Linked DNA regions of Homo sapiens: region 1 is linked to region 2. A link means that fine-mapping ties the variant in region 2 to the expression of a gene that starts in the linked region. Tissue or cell type: whole blood. Region 2 holds a variant in brackets; the other region holds the start of a gene. All regions are shown on one strand. Distances are from middle to middle.

Evidence for each region. PIP is the estimated chance that this variant, and not a neighbour inherited with it, causes the effect.
Region 1: it holds the start of OR2W3, and the variant in region 2 is fine-mapped to the expression of OR2W3 in whole blood (TOPMed, PIP above 0.99).

Annotation. Positions count from the first base shown.
Region 1 is chr1:247,894,151-247,896,844 of GRCh38, reverse strand. It overlaps OR2W3 (olfactory receptor family 2 subfamily W member 3), which reads right to left and starts at 1,258. Exons shown (of 1, transcript NM_001001957.2): 1 at 314-1,258. The coding sequence starts at 1,258. The coding sequence ends at 314.
Region 2 is chr1:247,776,835-247,779,528 of GRCh38, reverse strand. It overlaps the pseudogene OR9H1. Among named protein-coding and RNA genes, the nearest start is that of OR1C1, 18 kb to the right of the region's middle. The variant A/G (reference allele first, on the strand shown) is at 1,102.

The DNA of each region.
Region 1 (2,694 bases), 120 kb before region 2:
CCACAATTCCCACTGCCAGTGATGCACACCTGTAGTCCCAGTTACTTGGAAGGCTGAGGTGGGGGAGGATCGCTTAAGCCCAATAGTCGAAGGAGCTATGGTGGCACCACTGCACTCTACCCTAGGTGACAGAGTGAGACCCCGTCTCAATTTTAAGAGCAACAACAAAAACACATAATGTCAGAACTGAAACAGCCTCACAAAAGTCCAGAAAAAGGCAAGTTGGGAGTCGTGGGCTAATATCAGCTGGAATTCAGCCGTTCCAGATGCTGCCAGTGGCCCTGGATGGAAGTGAAGTCAGGTGGAGATGCCTTTACTCCTTTCCTAGCTCTCTCTTCCCCAGAAGCAACCTTCCCAGTGCCCCCTTCACCTCTCTGTTTCTGAGGGTGTAGATGAGAGGATTGAGGAGGGGGGTGACAATGTTGTAGAAGAGCATGAGGAACATGCCCTGGTCCTGGGAAGAACTGGCTCCTGGCTGCATGTACATGTAGATGATGTTTCCATAGAAAAGGGAGACCACAGTGAGATGGGAGCCGCAGGTGCCGAAGGCCTTCTGCCTTCCTGATGCTGACCGAATTTGTAACACAGCCCTCACAATGTAGCTGTAAGAGAGCAGGATAAACACCAAGGGGGACAGCACAACACCCACCGCCAGGACAAAGACGGTGCCTTCGATGGCCACAGTGCTGACGCAGGCCATCCGGATCAGGGCGGGCATCTCACGCAGGAAGTGGTCCACCTCGTGGTGCCCACAGCGGGGTAAGCGCAGGGTCACAGGAGACATGGCCAAGGAGTTGGCCACCCCACAGCCCCAGGTCACTGACACCAAGCCCCGGCAGAGCCTGGGGTTCATGATCACCATGTAGTGCAGGGGCTTGCAGATAGCCACACACCGGTCATAGGCCATGACAGCCAGAAGCAGGCACTCCACACCACCCAGACCCAGGAACAGGAAGAGCTGGATGGCACAGCCCATGTAGCTGATGGTCTTGTCACATCCATTAAGGTTGTAGAGCAGCTGGGGGATGGAGCTGGTGGTGAAACTGAGGTCCAGGAAGGAAAGGTGGGCGAGGAAGAAGTACATGGGGGTGTGGAGGTGGGGGTCCAGCCGGGACACCAGGATGATGGTGGTGTTGCCTACGAGGGTCAGGAGGTACGCGATCAGGATGACCACAAAGAGGATCCTCTCCAGATGGGGTCGGTCAGAGAATCCCAGTAGGATGAAATGGGTTTGGGTGCTGCCATTGGTTCCATCCATCTCTACTGCTGCTGAACAGAAATATCAATCCTAATAATAATAATAACAGCTGATATTAAGGGAGAACTTACTAGAAGCTAAGCATTCTTCTATGCTTTTTATATTTATTTTATTCATTCAACCCCAACAGTTATATGGAGTTGCACTATTATTATTAGCTCCCAACTTATAGAAAAGGAAACTGAAACACATGTGTGTTGAGCAAACTGTGATATGTAGGAAGACACAGAGCTGATTCTGAACCCCGGCAATGTAGCTGAGAGTGTGCAATCTAAACCACCAGTAGCACTGCCTCCAAATCCAGTGAAGTGAAGGCAAATCCTGCTGTGGCCAAACCACGAATTTTTCTAGAGACTCCAGTCCCTAGGCTCCTGCCAAAAACCTCAAGGACTCAAAATGGAGCCTCAAAATAATCCATCAATAGTATTTAGGAAATACTCTTTACACACAGAGTACTTTATCTATTACTGGTCTCAAAGACACACCTCATTCATTGGGTTACCATTACTGAGGTAATTTTTAAATTACCTCAGAATTTAATTTAATTTAATTTTAAAATTACCTCAGTAGATAAATAATGTAAGAGACAGGCAAAATACACATAAAATCTCTTTTTTTCTCTCTGTCTTTTAAATGGGCCTGGTATTGAACAAATAGAGTGTATGGGTTTTTCTTCCAAAGTACTATATACTGCTTGAGAGGATAAAAGAGATTGAAAAAACTTTGTAACAGATATTACAACTGTAATGCAAAATTCACGCATATGTACAGAAACCTCTATCACGTTCCAACTCTAATACCACATCACATTCAAAGCAAAGCATATTTGATAAGACAAACCACAAGTCTTACAGATGGATATAGGGAGACTTGGTCCATCCTGGTGTTTGGGTGATGGATGCATTAAAAGCCAAGACTTCGCCACTGTGCAATACATGCAGCTAAAAAGCAGTACCCCCAAATTAATATAAATAGATATAAGCATGTATGTGCAGGTAAAAAGCAGTACTCCCAAATTAATATAAATAGATATAAGTATGTATGTGCAGGTAAAAAGCAGTACTCCCAAATTAATATAAATAGATATAAGTATGTATGTGCAGGTAAAAAGCAGTACTCCCAAATTAATATAAATAGATATAAGCATGTATGTGCAGGTAAAAAGCAGTACTCGCAAATTAATATAAATCCATACGTGGAGGTAACAAAACAGTACTCCCAAACTAAGACAAATAAAAATAAATACATGCGAAGATGGCCGAATAGGAACAGCTCCGGTCTACAGCTCCCAGCGTGAGCGACGCAGAAGACAGGTGATTTCTGCATTTCCATCTGAGGTACCGGGTTCATCTCACTAGGGAGTGCCAGACAGTGGGCGCAGGCCAGTGGGTGCGCGCACCGTGCACAAGCCGAAGCAGGGCGAGGCATTGCCTCAC
Region 2 (2,694 bases):
ATGCCACATTTTTTCATGTGTCTGTTGGCTGCATAAATGTCTTCTTTTGAGAAGTGTCTGTTCATATCCTTCACCTACTTTTTGATGGGGTTGTTTGTTTGTTTCTTGTAAATTTGTTTGAGTTCTTTGTAGATTCTGCATATTAGCCCTTTGTCAGATGAGTAGATTGCAAAAATTTTCTCCCATTCTGTAGGTTGCCTGTTCACTCTGATGATAGTTTCTTTTGCTGTGCAGAAGAAGCTCTTTAGTTTAATTAGATCCCATTTGTCAATTGTGGCTGTTTTGCCATTGCTTTTGGTGTTTTAGTCATGAAGGCTTTGCCTATGCCTATGTCCTGAATGGTAATGCCTAGGTTTTCTTCTAGGGTTTTTATGGTTTTAGGTCTAACATTTAAGTCTTTGATCCATCTTGAATTAATTTTTTGTATAAGGTGTAAGGAAGGGATCCAGTTTCAGCTTTCTACATATGGCTAGCCAGTTTTCCCAGCACCATTTATTAAATAGGGAATCCTTTCCCCATTTCTTGTTTTGCTCATCATCACTGGCCATCAGAGAAATGCAAATCAAAACCACAATGAGATATCATCTCACACCAGTTAGAATGGCGATCATTAAAAAATCAGGAAACAACAGGTACTGGAGAGGATGTGGAGAAATAGGAACACTTTTTCACTGTTGGTGGGACTGTAAACTAGTTCAACCATTGTGGATCTAGAACTAGGATCTAGAACTAGAAATACCACTTGACCCAGCCATCCCATTACTGGGTATATACCCAAAGGATTATAAATCATGCTGCTATAACGACACATGCACACATATGTTTATTGCAGCACTATTCACAGTAGCAAAGACCTGGAACCAACACAAATGTCCATCAATGATAGACTGGATTAAGAAAATGTGGCACATATACACCATGGAATACTATGCAGCCATAAAAAAGATGAGTTCATGTCCTTTGTAGGGACATGGATGAAGCTGGAAACCATCATTCTCAGCAAACTATCACAAAGACAAAAAACCAAACACTGCATGTTCTTACTCATAGGTGGGAACTGAACAATGAGAACACTTGGACACAAGAAGGGGAACATCACAC[A/G]CCGGAGCCCGTCGTGGGGTGCGGGGAGCAGGGAGGGATAGCATTAGGAGATATACCTAATGTAAATGACGAGTTAATGGGTGCAGCACACCAATATGTCACATGTATACATATGTAATAAACCTGCACGTTGTGCACATGTACCCTAGAACTTAAAGTATAATAAAAAAATAAAATAAAATAAAAATTCTTATTAGAAAAAAAAAGAAAAAGCATGGCATAAAACTGTAAGAAGATATTTGTCGTGTATACATCTGGCAAACAAACCTATATCCAGCATATATAAAGTATATCTTTAAAAAAGTGGAAAAGATTGTCAATCCAGCTAAAATGGGCAAATGGTTTAAACAATCACTTCACAAAAGAGGACACCCAAATGATTAATTCAAAATATAAAATTTGATCACTTGTGTCAGAGAAATGCTAATTATGATTCTATAGTGGGCAACAGCACTCACATCTCATAGTTGGTTACTGAGTCCAATAAGTTAATACGAGCACCCCCATCTTACTTATTAATTCTTCCTTCATGGATAAGTCAGGATAAAGATATCTTATTAATATATCCTATCCAAGAAGAAAAGGACGTACCAACTATCTAATTGTGTTTGAGAATACTGAGTCATAGCTTGAGACTCAAAGATTCCATCTTTTAGAATCTCACTTCTCAGTGGAAGCTGAAATTTCACTCTCTCTCCCTGTGTTTTTCTTTTTTTCTTCTCTCGTATTTCTTTGAATTGGTTTCAGTACAAGAAAGCATTAAGCAGTATATATCTATGATGGCAGAAGCACATATTTTTATATTCAAGGTAATTGGAAGCTTTTAATTTCTAAAATGCTGTGCGAGGAATGAGAGTTACTAGACTATGAACCCTTCAAAAGATAAAGAAATCTGTAAGGAGTGGGAACATACAGATGTTAATAAACTATGACAGAGGTGCCATCTCTTCTGGGAAGCCACCTTGGCCCCCTGTTTTCAATACTTGAACACAATTTGAATTTGCATGGTACTATACATATAAACTTATCCTATGTCAGCACTAATAATACTAAATTTCTAACAATGATTTACTATACTTGAGCTTTCTGAGGAAAAAAGTTTATTCAATTTGGTATCCCAACAGTTTAGAGCTTAGAAAATTATATTTGCTCAAACTCTTAATTAAATAAATTAATTCATTATTGTTTTTTTTTACAGTTTCCATGTTTTTCATTCCTCTACTGAAAGTGAAATTTTCATAATTAAAATATTATGTCTGCATCCAGGCAGTTAAGACCTTGATGCATTAATGTTTCAATGTATGTTTATTACTCTGATTTTACTGTGATGACTTCCAAGTGTAAATCTTGAGATGTTGTGTTTATGAAAGTAAATTCTCCAACTGTACTGTGATATTCTTAAAGTGAAATATGAGTTTTATTCATTCGTGCTTCTCCTCAAATAGCATGCCCAGTAGATGCTTAATAAGTTAATATTGGATAAAGGCAGAAAGATGTCATGATACTTATTTCTGCATTTGCTTCTGCAGATTTTCCTTTATATCACACCTGGAATTACAGATGTGAGCCACCACTCTCGGCCCAACAACTGTA